Regions from separate parts of the Homo sapiens genome. Here region 1 is linked to region 2. The links come from fine-mapping of genetic effects on gene expression. A gene starts in region 2. The other region holds a variant in brackets. All regions are shown on one strand. Distances are between the middles of the regions.

Region 1 (8,510 bases), 70 kb after region 2:
ATCAAAAAGTGGGCGAAGGATATGAACAGACACTTCTCAAAACAAGACATTTATGCAGCCAAAAGACACATGAAAAAATGCTCATCATCACTGGCCATCAGAGAAATGCAAATCAAAACCACAATGAGATACCATCTCACACCAGTTAGAATGGCGATCATTAAAAAGTCAGCAAACAACAGGTGCTGGAGAGGATGTGGAGAAATAGGAACACTTTTACACTGTTGGTTGGACTGTAAACTAGCTCAACCATTGTGGAAGTCAGTGTGGCGATTCCTCAGGGATCTAGAACTAGAAATACCATTTGACCCAGCCATCCCATTACTGGGTATATACTCAAAGGATTATAAAACATGCTTCTATAAAAACACATGCACACATATGTTTATTGCGGCACTATTCACAATAGCAAAGACTTGGAACCAAGCCAAATGTCCAACAATGCTAGACTGGATTAAGAAAATGTGGCACATATACACCATGGAATACTATGCAGCCATAAAAAAGGATGAGTTCGTGTCCTTTGTAGGGACATGGATGAAGCTGGAAACCATCATTCTCAGCAAACTATCGCAAGGACAAAAAACCAAACACCGCATGTTCTCACTCCTAGGTGGGAATTGAACAATGAGAACACATGGACACAGGAAGGGGAACGTCACACACCGGGGCCTGTTGTGGGGTGGGGGGAGTGGGGAGGGATAGCATTAGGAGTTATACCTAATGTTAAATGATGAGTTAATGGGTGCAGCACACCAACATGGCACATGTATACATTTCTCCGGGTGAAATTATCCTGGATTCAGGGTGGCCCTGAAATCCATCACTGATGTCATTATAAGAAGAGGAGGTGACAGAGAGAGACACAGCAAAGAAGGCTGCACGCAGACAGAGGCAGAAATTAGAGTCGTGCTGTCAGAAGCCACCGAGGCTGCAAAAGGCACAGATGGTCTCCCTGGAGCCTGCAGCAGAAGTGCGCCCTACTGGCACTGGGATTTTTGACTTCCAGCCTCCAGAACTGTGAGACACTAAATGTCTGTTGTTTGAAGCCACCTGGTTTGTGGTGCTTTCTGACAGCAGCCCTAGGGAAGCCAATACATTCCTTTGCATCTCTTCTCTACATTTGGTACTTGGTCCAGCGCTTACGGCAGAAATGCTGTTTCCTAGATATAGCTTCTCCCTCAGCTCATCCTCCCTTCTCTCATCCTCTTCCCTTCCACTTCTAAAAAGTTAGAAAAAAACATCCTCCCTCACACACTCTGAAGGGACACAAATTCTTTATTTTTAAAAAAATTTTTTTTTTTTTTTGAGACTGAATTTTGCTCTTGTTGCCCGGGCTGGAGTACAATGGCATGATCTTGGCTCACTGCAACCTCCACCTCCCAGATTCAAGCGATTCTCCTGCTTCAGCCTACCAAGTAGCTGGGATTACAGGCACGTACTAACACACCCGGCTAATTTTTGTATTTTTAGTAGAGATGGGGTTTCACAAGGTTGGCCAGGCTGGTCTTGAACTCCTGACCTCAGGTGATCCACCCACCTCGGGCTCCCAAAGTGCTGGGATTACAGGCATGAGCCACCATGCCCAGCCCAGGACACAAATTTTTATAGCCATTCATTTATAGCCATTCATTCATTCATTCACTTATAGCCATGAATACAAGTTTAAGGTTGAAAATTTAGAAATAAATTATAAAATCCACCTTACGCTCACCATATGGAAATGCATGCTGTTCATGTAGTTTGTGTGAATTCTTGTCACCTAACATTGTATCTTAGTAGTTCCCCAGGCGATACATAGAAGCCATGTCGCATTTCATTTTACGAATGTATCATTACACATTCAATAACTCTCTCACTGTTGAACCTTTGGGTTGTTTTCAGTTATTTTAAAATTTTGTATTTATAATTTTTGGTTAAAATCCTTATATAGACGTCTGTCTACATGTTTGGTTATTTCTTTGGGGTAGTCTATGAAAAAGAATGAATGCTTCAAAGATAAAAACCTTCTCCCCTCTTTGGTATGTGAAGCTAGGTTTGGTTTAGGGGGCTTGGCACCTTTAAGAGTTTACTTTCACCAGACATACATCTACCTGCTTTACACAGTGACCCAGTGAGATCGGTGCTAAGATGATGCCCATTTTACAGAGGTGCAAACTGAGACATAGGGAGGCCAGTGTCACACAGTAAGCAGGAAAGCCTGTGCAATTCCAGCCACGCAGAGTCTGGAGTAGTTGGTCCCAAACAGGGCGTGTTTGCTCCTCAGGGACACTGCTAATATCTGGAAACATTTTTGATGGTCTCAGCTGGAGAGGGTACTGCTGTTGGTATGTAGAGGGCAGAGGCCAGGGATGCTGCCAAGCACCCTACGATGCAGAGGACAGCCCCCACAACCAGGGATCACCTGGTTGAACATGACAAGGTTGCTGGGGGTAAGAGACTCTGGTCTGGAACCCCATTTTTTACCAGCGTCCGCCAATACCTCTCTCATTTTTTTACATTAGTCCTATGGGATGCAGGGCAAAGGTAACAGCAGGAAACTCATCTAAGCAGGTCCCATTCCATCCCCTCTGACCTGCTCTTGGTGGTTGCGAGAGGATTTGCTTGTGAGAGGTTTATTGGAAGAGGATTTGAGAACTTACTTTCATTTGAAAGCTTACAGGATATTTATGACAGTCTTTCCTTACCTGCCTTCCCCCACAAAACCAACTTCTGCAGATACACAATCTAAGTAAGAAAAATCTGCTTACTTTGAAAACACAGCTTCAAGATAACCTCCCTAGATTTTTTTTTTTTTTTTTGAGACCGGGTCTCACTCTGTTGCCCAGGCTGGAGTGCAGTGGTGCGATCACTGCTCACTGCATTCTTGACTTCCTGGGTTCAAGTGATCCTTCCACCTCAGCACCCTCCCAAGTAGCTGGGACTACAGGTGTGCACCATCACGCCCAGCTATTTTTTGATTTTTTGTAGAGACGGGGTCTCACTATGTTGCCCATGCTGGTCTCAAACTCTTGGGCTCAAGCAATCCGCTTGCCTTAGCCTCCCAAAATGCTGGGATTACAGGCATGAGCCACTGCGCCTGGCCTAGTCGCCCTAATATTTATCACAAACTCCCTCACCCTCTTCCCCAAACAACTTCACATAAATCTACAATCTAGAAAACTCTGTAGGTTGGCTTTGCAGTTTCTAGACAACTCACCCAGCACCTTTTTTCTTGTGAGATGACACCCCTAAACCACTCCTCTACTGAATTTCTAGGGAAACGCCTGTGGCTGATGTAATCATCTGCTTTCTAAGGGCCAGGTCCCCTCTGCCTAAGCCCTCGGATCCCCAGCAGTGGAGGGACAAATGCAACTTGGCTAGTCACATCGCATGCTTTAGCATGTTTCAATTTAACCCTGAAATGGCTGTAAGGGAGGGAAACCTACCAGGATTAACACAGGAGAAGTTAATCCTCAGACTCTCCTCAAGCTCTGGCTGGCATTTGAACCCCGCTGCTTTCACAGCAGCTCTTTTCCCTGAGTCAGGTGCCTAAAGCCAACCCCTTGGGGGCTCTGTCCTTCAGGGACCAGAGCGGCAGCCCCCTCCTCCCCCGACTTCTGCCCGCCGTCTCACCTTCTCTCCACGGAGCTCTCCTTTGTGGCCTTGGGTCCCGAGGGAGAGGAAGATCCTGAACCTCTGTCCTTGCCTCTCCGAGGTCCCCTGGTCTGGCAGGGGGCTGTGAGTGTCTGGGCTGGAGAAAGACGGATAGGAAGAGTAGGGTGGCCTTTGAACAGGAATTGATTGCAAAACTGGTTTCGGTTAAGTGCTGCAGGAGAGAAAAAGCAAAGCTCTAGGGCTCTTCCAGGAAATCATGGGCTCCAGCTGTCACTTTCAGTTTCCTTTTTGCCAGTTTCTCTAATTGGATGAACAAGGAGGTGAAAGAGCAGAATCCAAGTCAGGAGGCCTGAGTCTCTCGTCTCTGTCCTGGCTGTGTTATAGGATGGACCTATATGGGGTATGAAAATAGCTCCTGTGGCTTAGAGCTATGGTGAGGAGCCCATGAGCAAGCGATGGGGCGCCTGTTGAATAGTGGATTCACAGTAGCTGTCATCACTGATTGTTCTGAAACTGCTTTCCTCCACAGCATCTTACGTGACGCTGATGTGGGTAACAACCCTATGAGGTGCACAGCATTAAAGGGCTAATAACTCTGAATGCAGAATCCTCTGAAAATGGAAACTTTATTTTATTATTATTATTATTATTGTTTTTTGAGATGAAGTCTCGCTCTGTTGCCCAGGCTGGAGTGCAATGGCACGATCTCGGCTCACTGCAACCTCCGCCTCCTACGTTCAAGCTATTCCCCTGTCTCAGCCTCCCTAGTAGCTGAGATTACAGGCACCTGCCACCACGCCCGGCTGATTTTTGTATTTTTAGTAGAGATGGGGTTTTGCCATGTTGGCCAGGCTGGTCTCAAACTGCTGACCTCAAATGATCCATCCATCTAGGCCTCCCAAAGTGCTGGGATTACAGGCGTGAGCCACCGCACCTGGCCTCAGAATGAAAACTTAAAAAAAAATGATAATTTATTCATTTAGTGGCAAAACCTGACCTGATCTGGCATGAATTCACCTGTGGTTTTTATGTCTCCTGCTTAATTTGAATATTTACAGTCACTGCAGAAATATTAATATGTTTGACTGAGGAGGGCTGCTGCGGGTGCGTGGGTTACATAGTACACGATACCTGCACCCCATTACCTTTCTAAAAATCCCCCAAATCAGGAACTCTGACATGCATCTGGCCTCAAGGATTGGAGATATAGGATTGTGATACTCTGTCTCCCACTTTAAGGAAGAGGAAACCCAGGCTTCTAGAAGTTGTGGGTTGTTTGTGATTACACAGCTAAGAACCAGTCCTAGGCTCTGTGTCTACAAGAATGAGCCCACAGTGAGGTTACGGGCTGAGATCTGTGTCTCTCTAGCATTTGTGTCAAATTGTGATCAGAAGCCATGTGGTTTGTTTGTATTTATATGCCCAGAAGTCCCCAGTCACCACCCCTAGCTGAGACCACATTGGAGGCTGTTGCTTTGCAGAAGGTGCGGCCCACCTAGCCAGTCCTGGCTTTGCTGTGATAGAGGCCACCTCCTGTCCCTGGGCCCTACGAGCAGGAATGAGGGGTTAAGGGCTGCTGAGTTGGGTCTTGTAGGGGCCTTTCCAACCGTGGCATCCCGGATTCCACAACCCACCCCTGCTCCTGGCCTCCCACACTTGGGGAACACGCTAAACACAGCCTGACCTTGAGGAGGACTTGGCT[G/A]CCTGGCTGGGGCCGCTGAGCCATCCCAGGCCTGCCTGTTGTTTTCCCTGGCAACGGACCCAGATGTTGTGGTCACTGCTCGGTCCTGGGAGTCTCAGGGGCCAGACCGGCCATTGGATGGGGGCAGTGTTTACCACCAGGGCTCTTGTGAAACAATCGCCCCAAGAGATGCCATGTGAGAAAAATGTTCTGTAGCCAAATGCAGGAAGTGCTGCTTATGTAAGGGGACAGAAAACATCCACCCTATAGCTCAGATGAACAAAAGTAGGGAGTCGCTTAATTTCCTAGAGTCCACTTCCCTTCCCTCAAGGGACCCAAGACCTGCTGAAAAGAAACAAACTTGCCTGAAGGCCCCTTAGTCTCTTGTGATTTAAAACACACTCTCGGACCGGGCGCGGTGGCTCACGCCTGTAATGCCAGCACTTTGGGAGGCTGAGGCAGGTGGATCGCTTGAGGTCAGGAGTTTGAGGCCAGCCTGACCAACATGGTGAAACCCTGTCTCTACTAAAAATACAAAAATTAGCTATGTGTGGTGGCGGGCACCTGTAATCCCAGCTACTCGGGAGGCTGAGGCAGGAGAATCGCTTGAACCTGGGAGGTGGAGGTTGCAGTGAGCCGAGATTGTGCCACTGCACTCCAGCCTGGGCGACAGAGCGAGACTCTGTCTCAAAAAAACAAACAAACAAACACACACACACACACACACACACACACATCTTTGGGTAAAGTCTCTCATTTGGGGGTGAATGTTCAGGCAATTTAAGTTCAAATTTTCTATCAGGGCTTTTTATGTTTTCTGAAAAGTTTGCCTCTCATTGAGGCTGCAGTGAGCTGAGATTGCACCACTGCACTCCAGTCTGGGTGACAGAGCAAGACCCTGTCTCAAAAAAAAAAAAAAAAAAAAAGAAAGAAATTTGCATGCCTCGGAGATGGCACCTGGGGGCAGGGGCTTGTGCTGGCCCTCTGGGGTTCCACTGGCCCACAAAGAGGGTCCTTTGTGACCCTTCCAGCAGGCATTGCTGGCTCCTGGACACCTGGGTTCTGGTTTGCCTTGGCACCTCTCTGAGGAGCTGCAGGTTTTCTGTGTTGCAGCCACAACCAACCCACTCTGGGCTCAGGCTGTCTGCCTCCCAGAGAGCTCATCACGCCTCGGCCCAGTGGCCCCTGGCACAGGCAGGGACCATCCGTCCTGGGATGGGGGAAAGGCCTTGAAGCACACTTTGACCCTGAAATTCTTGGATTCTAGAAATTTCTTTTCTTCTCTCTGGCTACAGCATTTAGGGAGAGTTTGAACCTAGGAGGCGGAGGTTGCCTAGAGTTTGAGCAAATGCTGCCCTGAGACTGCAATTTGCCAAATGTAGCAAAAGTTCTATCGTGGCCTCCATTGCTTTGCCTGGAAGCAGTTTCAGGATCCTGGGAGCCCAGGCCAGAGCGAAGCAGGGAAGCAGCCATTACAAGGGGAGAGTGGAGCACTGAACTTGAACCCAGGACCACCAAAAGGGCCAGGCCTCGCATGGCCACACCCTTGTTGCTTGGCGTACAGCAACTAACCCTCACCCACTTCCATCCCATCTCCTTCCCGGGGTTCTTGTGAGGAAGGTTTTTGTTCGTTTGTTTTTTGTTTTGTTTTGTTTTTTTGAGACAGTCTCGCTCTGTCGCCCAGGCTGGAGTGCAGTGGTGCGATCTCGGCTCACTGCAACCTCTGCCTCCTAGGTTCAAGCAATTCTCCTGTCTCAGTCTCCAAGTAGCTGGGATTACAGGCATGTGCTAATACGCCTGGCTAATTTTTGTATTTTCAGTAGAGATGGGGTTTTGCCATGTTGGCCAGGCTGGTCTTGAACTCCTGACCTCAGGTGATTCACCCGCCTTGGCCTCCCAAAGTTCTGGGATTATAGGTGTTAGCTATCATGCCCAGCGGAATGAGTTATCTTGACAATGGTAAAGGTTGATGCACGCACCAGGTGCTCTGGCCATCATTACCATTTTTGTATACACAGGACTCATCTTTTTTTTTTTTTTTTTTTTTTTGAGACAACGTTTCACTCTTGTTGCCCAGGCTGGAGTGCAATGGCACGATATCGGCTCAGTGCAACATCCGCCTCCCTGGTTCAAGCGATTCTCCTGCCTCAGCCTCCTGAGTAGCTGGGATTACAGGCGCCCACCACCACCCCCGGCTATTTTTTTTGTATATTTAGTAGAGACGGGGTTTCACCATGTTGACCAGGCTGGTCTTGAACTTCTGACCTCAGGTGATCCACCCGCCTCGGCCTCCGAAAGTGCTGGGATTACAGGCATGAGTCACCGCGCCCAGCCCCAAGGATTCATCTTTCATGAGAGATCTGAGAGAGCGAGAGAGGGGATGTCTCTTTCTTTCTACCCTGGATTAAAAATGAAGATGTCTGGCATCCTGGGTTGGAGGGATGGGAACTTCCATGTGCAGAATGTTACATGTGGAGCACGTGCTCGGAATATTTCACTCATCATCGCATTTTATCCATATGCTCCTTCTATGAAGCAGGGAGCACAAGCCCAATATATAGCTGCCAAGACTGATGTTCATGGGTCCAAGGACCTCATCCAAGATCACAGTGTCTGACATGACTAGGGTTAGGCGTAGAACCCAAATGTGTCTACCTCCAGTTCTTTGCACTAAAACACATCACAGAAGTCCACATCTCTGCTCTGTGGCTGAATGATCAGTGAGTTTGCAAACTGCTCTCCTTGTGGTAGCCTGGCCAGGGGTGGGGTGGAGGTGGGCAGGGGCTGGAACAGGAGGTACAGGTTGTGCAAGAGGCAAGGTTAGTTGGCATTTTGGTTAGCAGGTTGCAAGTGACACATCATCTTGGAGCAGTGTAAGCAAAAACAAGGAAGCCATTTATCCAGCTTGGTTGTTCTTATACTGCAAGTCACAATTTACAGTGTCATGAAATCAGCTTAGTGGGTCTCAAGAAATAATAAAGGGAAATGAGGTTGGACATGGTGGCTCATGCCTGTAATCCCAGCATTTTAGGAGGCTGAGGCTGGAGGATTGCCTGAGCCTAGGAGTCAGACCAGTTTGGGTAACATGGTGAAACCTTGTCTCCACAAAAAAATGCAAAAATTAGCCGGGTGTGGTGGTGCGCCTATGGTCCTAGAGACTGGTGTGTGTGTTGAGGGGATGGGGGATGGGGGGTGCTGAGGTGGGAGGATCACTTGAGCCCAGGAGGTTGAG
Region 2 (8,510 bases):
TGAAAAGTCAATGCCTTTTTTGGGGAGCTTTCTCAGACTTAACGGGAGCACTGGGGGGAAATCTTGACAGTGGAGGTGGGAGAGAGAACAGTAGAGGGAGGCTGGGCCAAGGACACAGAGAAGTCAATAACTGTACCTGTGTCTGAAAGCGCAGGCAACCCATTTGCATGACGCATGAAGATTTTATCTTTAGGCATTTGGTTGCTATAAATTGCGGGAGCATTGCAACCCACTTTAGAGAACCTTATGGACACTTTGGCAAGAGTTAAGTGCAACCTCTGTTAGGCAGCAGAGTTTGTTGTGAGTCTATTGCTGCAGCTGAGCTCTGTGGGAGAGTCTGAATGCCCAGGCCAAGGCAACGGAAAGGGAAGTCCCAGGAGCTTGGATCTCAAGGCAAGACTCAGACATTATCATGGGTTGGGAAAGGGTGAAGGCAGACCCAGGAAGGAATATTCCTGGATTGGGAGAAAACCAGCAAATTCTGCTTCTAGGATTCCATTGCCCTCTAAGCCATGTGTCTGGGCATCTATCAGTATACCAATGTACTTACCATTACCAAAGGATTTTTTTTTTTTAAATGAAGCCCTGCTCTGTCGCCCAGGCTAGAGTGCAGTAGTGGTGCAATCTTGGCTCACTGCAACCTCCGCCTCCCGGGTTCAAGCAATTCTCCTGCCTCAGCCTCCCATGTAGCTGGGATTACAGGCATGCTCCACCACACCTAGCTAATTTCTGTATTTTTAGTGGAAATGACGTTTCACCATGTTGGCCAATCTGTCCTTGAACTCCTGACCTCAAGCGATCCGCCCACCTTGGCCTCCCAAAGTGCTAGGATTTCAAGCGTGAGCCACCGTGCCTGCCCTTACCAAAGGTTTTACATTTTTTTTACTAAGATATTTTTTATGCGGATGTGTACATTTTATCTTTTTTGCATATCTCCAATTGCACATGAGACAACATGAGCAACACTTCAGCCAACTTGGTTGGAACCCATTTGTATGTTTCATCCTATGAAGGTGGCTACAGATCTGGATATTAACAATCAGATTTTATTCCTTCATTCAAATACTTATTGACAGCTGGGCACGGTGGCTCACACCTCTAATCCCAGCACATTGGGAGGCCGAGGCGGGTGGAGCATTTGAGATCAGGAGTTCAAGACCAGCCTGGCCAACATGGGGAAACTCCATCTCTACAAAAAATATAAAAATTAGCCGGGCGTGGTGGCGGGCGCCTGTAATCCCAGCTACTCGTGAGGCTGAGGCAGGAGAATCACTTGAACCTGGGAGGCAGAGGTTGCAGTGAGCCGAGATCGTGCCACTGCACTCCAACCTGGGCAACAGAGAAGAGACTCTGTCTCAAAACAAAACAAAACCCAAATACTCATTGAGTGCTGGGTCTGTGACAGACACTGTTTTGGATGCTGGGATTGTGGCCATAAGCATAACAGCCTGTTCTCTGCCCTCACGGAACTCAGGTTCTGGGGACTTCCCCCAGACCTCACCTCCGTAGATTACCTTTCGAAGCCACATTTCTTTACAACCTTCTCCCAAGCCTGGAGATGGACAAGGATCAGGGACATTTCTTCTTGAGTCATCTCAGCCCGAAAAGACATAACAGTGCTCCGGGAAAGTTGGCTGTCTAATTACAATATTGGAGAATTAGAAAAAAAAAAGAATACAACAAAAATCTTAATGTCTCAGAAATGTCACATGATTTTTGTCTAATGATTTTAAACAAACAAACCATGGGAATGCCCAAGGTTGACTAGGATGCAATAAAACTGGAAATCGCTTAGGCTTCTAGTGGCAAAGTAGATTGGTAAAGCACTTTTGAAATGTTGACGTTATACGTTAATGATATGGGAGCAGGCAGGGAAGTGCTGCTTACATAAAGGCATGGTCCCCGGTGAGGGTTCCACCCTCGGGCCTGGGCCCATGGATCTAAGTGAGGACAAGCATTTCTGCTTTCGCTCCCAAATGCTGCATTTTCTAAGACCACTCTGGCCCGCCATATCCCCACCTAACAGGCAGACACACACAAGTAGCTGGACATCGAGAGGAACACACAGGAAGAAGAATACACCGGCGGATGCTGACAGGTCATCCACGGCTGAATGACATGGAATTTAGCCAAAGGCAGTTGGAGGAGAACCGCTGAGTGGCCCAAATCCAGGGGAAGACCACCTTCCCACTCCATCCCCTTTCTGGCTCCCCATCCATCTGCTGAGAACTACACTCGATAAAACCTTGCACTCACTCTCCAAGCCCACGTGTGATCCAATTTTTCTGGCATACTAGGGTTAGAACCCTGGAGTACAGAAATTAGACCCTCTGCTTTGTCCTTCCGATAAGCTCACTGGGGCTCGGGAGCTGCAAACACTCAACCCTAGATGGGGCTGCTGTGGGGTCGGAGCCCACGCTCCCCAAGACCTGCCGGTCCGCATGCTCCCCCTAGGGGTTTGAGCCGCAGGGCACCGAAGAAGTGAGCCACACCCCGTTTTATACTGTGCAAGGGGGATAAGGGAACTTTTCCCATTTCGTTAAGTCACAAAAGTCTTCTGAGAATCATCCAACAACACAATGATAGGCACCAAGACAATCGGGGCCATGTTAATTGATAACATTTTTAACTTGGGAGCAAGTGAACGCTCATTCTGTCCAGTGCCTATCATCTATAGCCCTGAGAGAGGCACAGTCCAGTCCCTGCTGAATGACACCTGCCTGATGACAAGGCTCGTGGGCGGGATGGTGGTTGGTTTTACCCAGGCAGGCAACACAGCAGAGTCCACCTTGTTCAGACACTCTCTCTCACATTGCAGCTTCTTTTGTTGCTCAAAAATCACTTTAAATGTATTTTCAATATAATTTGACAAAAAGATAGTCAAATTTGACAAAAAATATAATTTGACAAAAATCACCCCTAGTTCTCCTGCAACATAACTATTGATTTCATTCTCTACTTCCCGTTATTTTTCAAATCCGTATTATTTTTCGCATGGCTTTTATACTTATAATGGTGTGTCCTGTTTTTATTTATTATTATTATTTATTATTATTATTATTTTTGAGACGGTCTCACTGTCACCCAGGCTGGAATGCAGTGGTGCGATCTCGGCTCACTGCAACCTGCGCCTCCTGGGTTCAAGTGATTCTCCTGTCTCAGCCTCCCGAGTTGTTGCAATTATAGGTGCGCACCACCATGCCTGGATAAGTTTTCTATTTGTAGTAGAGATGGGGGTTTCACCATGTTGGCCAGGCTGGTCTCAAACTCCCAACCTCAGGTGATACATCTGCCTTGGCCTCCCAAAGTGCTGGGATTACAGGCATGAGCCGCTGTGCCTGGCCACGTGCCCTGTTTTTAAAATGTAATGTTATACAAGTATTTTCCATCTTGCTATACAGTTGTTATAACTATTATTTTTGATGACTCTATGCTATTTCCTTAAGAGAAGATGTATTGTCATGTTTATAGAAACACTCCCTTATCATGGCACTTTGGCGTCTTTTTTTTTTTTTTTTTTTTTTTTGAGACGGGGTCTCTGTCTGTTGTCCAGGCTGCAGTGCAATGGCGCGATCTCCCAGTTCAAGCAATTCTCCTGCCTCACCCTCCCGAGTAACGGGACTACAGGTGTGCACTACCAGCCTGGCTAATTTTTTGTATTTTTAATAGAGACAGGGTTTCACCATGTTGGCCAGGCTGGTCTTGAACTCCTGGCCTCAAGTGATCTGCCCATGTTGGCCTCCCAAAGTGTTGGGATTACAGGCATGAGCCACTGCGCCCAACCGTGCTTTGGGGTCATAACAGTTTTGATATCCAGATGAGTTCTTTGATAATGTCGCCACCTTGTCCTGCCTGCTGCCTCTACTTTAACCAGAAATGGAACCAGTGATTGACCCCTTCCCCGCTGCCACACTGCTTCAAGCAGGGGCTTAAAGAGCTGCTTATGTTTTTAGTTAAACTTTACATTTTTAGTTAAACTTTACAAAGGAAGTTATTTGATGTAGTATTTTCAAACCTGAGCAATTGAGAGGGTCTCATGATATCTCCCTCATTAAAACCAAGGATCTGCTATATCTCCACCCAGCAATAGCATATGGTGGGTATAAAAAATAGTGTAACGTATTTTTTCTATTTCTGGGACAATTTGTACAACGTGAGAATTGCTTGTTTTCTGAAAGCTTAAAAGAACTTACCAGGTAACACCTTGGAACCGGGAACTTGCAAATTTCCTTGTTTGCCACATGGCATGCTTTAGATTTTTTAAAATTTAAGCTTATAATATGATTAATAAATATGACTCCCTTCTCCATGCCTGAAACCTGTCTCTCCCAGTCCTCACCTATTTTTTTTTCTTTTCTTTTCTTTCTTTTTTTTTTTTTTTGCGATGGAGCTTCTCTCTGCTGCCCAGGCTGGAGTGCAGTGGTGCAGTCTCAGTCACTGCAACCTCCACTTCCCAGGTTCAACTGACTCTTCTGCCTCAGCCTTCTGAGTAGCTGGGATTACAGGTGCCTGCCACCATGCCTGGCTAATTTTTGTATTTTTAGTAGAGACAGGGTTTCACCATGATGGCCAGGCTGGTCTCAAACTCCTGACCTCAGGTGATCCGCCCGCCTTGGCCTCTCAAAATGCTGGGATTACAGGCGTGAGCCACTGCGCTCAGCTGCTATGGCTTTTGGAAGGATGATTTAGGGTATCTTTCTTTTTTTTTTTTCTTTCATTTGGAGATGGTCTCATTTTGGCACCTGGGCTGGAGTGCAGTGACACAATCTCGGCTCACTGCAGTAACCTCCCGGGCTCAAGTGATCCTCCTGTCTTAGCCCCCCAAGTGGCGGGGACTACAGGTGTGCACCACCACACCCAGCTAATATATATATATATATATATTTTTTTTTTTTTTGTAGAGATGGAGATTCACCATGTTGCCCAGGCTAATCTCTAACTCCTGAGCTCAAACAATCCACCCTCCTTGGCCTCCCAAAGTGCTAGGATTACAGGTGTGAGCCACTGCACCTGGCCTTCTTGGGATGTCTCTTAACATGAGAAGTACATGTGCCTGACACTCAGCATCCCACCTCTAGAAATACACCCACCACGGACACAACACAACGGCACAACACAACACAACAGACAAACGTGTATGGATGTTCATCCAGTTATTTGAAGTTGTATAAAGAAATGGAAACAATTTGAAAAATCCATGCCGGGGACTGTTTACATGAAAATAGAGCAATACAAAATAAAGGTTTATGGATGTGAAAAGGAACGAGGCAAATCTATGTACAACTGACCTAGAAAGAGGTCCAGGATATATTAAGTAAAAGAAAAGAGGTTGAAGAATATGTTCTTTATATTCTTTTCTTATTTTTTTTAAGTACTATATATGTGATGTAGGAGTAGGGGAATATTCTCGAAGGAGATACACCAAATGTGAACAGGCTTAGCTCAGGGAGGGAGATTTAGGGCTAGGGTGACAAAATACTTTTGCACTTTTCACTCATCTATATTATTGAGCTTTGTTACCAAAGTAACTTGTTAGTTTTATAATAAAAGCCAATAGAAGCCAGGCACGGTGGCTCACGCCTGTAATCCCAGCACTTTGGGAAGCTGAGGCAGGTGGATCACCTGAGATCAGGAGTTCGAGACCAGCCTGGCCAACAAGTCTCTACTAAAAATACAAAAATTAGCCAGGCGTGGTGGTGGGCACCTGTAATCCCAGCTACTCAGGAGGCTGAGGCAGGAGAATCTCTTGAACCCGGGAGGCGGAGGTTGCAGTGAGCTGAGATTGCACCACTGCACTTCAGCCTGGGTGACAGAGCGAGACTCTGTCTCAACAACAACAAAAAGCCAATAGAATAAAAAGATTTTAGTAATGAGATTTATTATTCATTATTTTATCATAAAATCTCCCACTTGTACAGTAATGCATTTGGTGCAGGGAATGCTGCCAAGTACATGGTAAGACAAAATCTGACAAATTAATACTGTTAAATGTTAATATTGTTTTCTTTTTTTGTTGGTTCTATGTAAGTTTTTCTAACTTGTTATTTTGGCCTTTTGTGTCCTATTTATTTCAGGTTATCTCTTGGATGTAGAAAATTACTCAGATCTGATTTTGACCCAATTTGATACTTTTCTTAATGTTATTCATATTCATATTAATTATTTTTTGTTATAATTATTCAACTTTGATTTGTCCCATTATTTTAGGCATTCTGCTTTTTATTTCTTTGCTCTCTTCCTATGCTCTACATAGATAGGTACAGTGCAGAGGTTTCAGCTGATGCAGTGAGTGGTTTATTGTGGCAGCCCGGAGCTTCACCTTGAAGGCAGAGATGTGTGTTATCTGCGCTTTCCTGCCTACTCTGTGTATACCCAGTAAATGACAGATACAGAACAACACTTAGAATAAGACCTCATCATTCATGACACTAAGTTTTGTTTTTTTATGTATGTATGTATATATTTATTTAATTTTTGATACACAGTCTTGCTCTGTGGCTCAGGCTGGAGTGCAGTGGCACGATCTCGGCTTTGCAACCTCTGCCTCCCTTGTTCAAGCGATTCTCCTGCCTCAGTCTCCCGAGTAGCTGGGATTATAGGTGTGCACCACCACGCCCAGCTAATTTTTGCATTCTTAGTAGAGACGGGGTTTCACCATGTTGACCAGGCTGTCAACCTCCTGGGCCTCAGGTGATCCATCTGGCCACCTCAGCCTCTCAAAGTGCTGGGATTAAAGTCCTGAGCCACTACGCCCAGCTGACACTAAGTTTTTTATGTTTAAAATCTTGCTCAGCTCTCCCTGCTGTCCTGGGCTAGAATAGATCTTGGGAGATGACTCTATTAGACTTTATTTTGGGGAGGAGGCAAGAAGGGAGTGAGCAGGGCTGAGACCCAGCAAAGGCAGAGGATGATCATATAGCGGGAGTGGGAGAACCACTGGACAGGTTCTGGGTCTGTCCATGAAATGGGCTCATAGTTCCCTTCCAGTTAAATTCATCTCCTATGCAACTTTTGTGCTTTATGCATAGGATGAGAGGTCAAACAACATCATCTTGTGTTTGATTATGTACACAGATGTTTCACGAATCATCATATTTCATAATCGATCAATTTCTGATAATTTAAAAATGCATCTTCCATGAGAAAGCTCAGAATATCACACTGAGAGCGAGAAAGAACTACCCTTCTCCCCCTGCTTTGACTCACGTCTCCCAAACAGGGCGTTAGACTCTTCTGAGTGGTTTCCATTACAAGACACCCAGGAGGCCACCTTCAGTGGAGGCTGTGGCCACTGTGCTCAGGGATCACACACAGATGCAAGGAGCTTGCTCCTCTCTCCTGCCTCCTCTCTCAACACGGAAGAAGGGATCCACTGGCCCCAGTTCATTTATCTTGCTTTCTCAACTCTTCTCAGTCGGACACCCTGCATTCATTGCTGGAGGACACAGCGATCCTGAACTTGGAGTCTGGTTTTAGAGGCAGGGAGAGGCTCACGTAGACCTAAGCCAGGTAGTTCAGTCCATTCTGCCAGAGAGCTCTGCTCTGGAGAGTCAGCCCCAAGCCAGAAGGGTAAAACGAGGCATTGTCCTTTTCTGCTACTACTGTTTGCCATTGTCCCTCATGCTAATATCTCCCTCGAGGGCCACATAGTGAGAAGGCATGGCTGGGCCAAAAACAAATCTAGGCACTTCTGGAATTCTCAACCACACAACCAGATAACAGTGCCTGGACTGACCACAAAACTGGACCCATTAAGAGTTGCAGGGCCCAGAGGGATAACGCAGATTTTTATTTATTTTTATTTTTTTGAGACAGAATCTTGCTCTGTCATCCAGGCTGGAATGCAGTGGCATGGTCTCAGCTCACTGCAACCTCCGCCGCCCAGGTTCAAGCGATTCTCCTGCCTTAGCCTTCCAAGTAGCTGGGATTACAGGTGCGCACCACCACGCCTGGCTAATTTTTGTGTTTTTAGTAGAGACGGGGTTTCACCATGTTGGCCAAGCTGGTCTTAAACTCCTGACCTCAAGTGATCCACCTGCCTTGACCTCCCAAAGTGCTGGGATTACAGGCTTGAGCCACCGCGCCCGGCCAACACAGATGTTGTATTCTGACTTGAGTATGTATCTGGATCTGAGGTTCATGAAATACAGTCACCACAGCTAAGGAACCCAGGATGAGAGGTCTCTAATTGTAGGAGGAGTGTGAGCAGAATCTCATGGGAGATAGGGCAAGAAAGGGACTTTAGTTCCTCACCTTCACTTTCGGACCCAGGATCAGCCACATCCAGTGCCTCAAGTCACTTCATAATCTCTAGCATCTCCCGTTGTAGGTGGGGACAGTGAGCTGGGGTCAAGAGAATTTACTGAACAGGAGAGGATTACCTGGGTGGATTTTGGTTGGTGCTGCAGTCATGGTATCTCTGAGGATCCCTTGGCACTTCTCTCTCTGCAGATGACAATGGATCCTAGGCCGGAAGAGAGGCAGCTTCCCCTCCTAAAGAAGAAAACCGA

Which allele goes with the higher level. Positions count from the first base shown, and alleles are read on the strand shown. Sizes are in standard deviations (SD) of each study's normalised expression.
For the expression in subcutaneous fat of the gene that starts at base 4,248 in region 2, allele G in region 1 goes with a higher level than allele A (moderate effect, 0.51 SD a copy in GTEx).

The links.
Region 1: its variant is fine-mapped to the expression of APOL5 in subcutaneous fat (GTEx, PIP above 0.99). The same link has a PIP of 0.9 or more in breast, left ventricle, thyroid, tibial nerve and visceral fat.

Annotation. Positions count from the first base shown.
Region 1 is chr22:35,643,729-35,652,238 of GRCh38, reverse strand. APOL6 (apolipoprotein L6) reads right to left here and starts at 3,793. Exons shown (of 3, transcript NM_030641.4): 1 at 3,616-3,793. RefSeq lists an enhancer at 3,789-4,088. The variant G/A (reference allele first, on the strand shown) is at 5,300.
Region 2 is chr22:35,713,610-35,722,119 of GRCh38, reverse strand. APOL5 (apolipoprotein L5) reads right to left here and starts at 4,248. Exons shown (of 5, transcript NM_030642.1): 1 at 4,194-4,248; 2 at 1,466-1,552. The coding sequence starts at 4,248.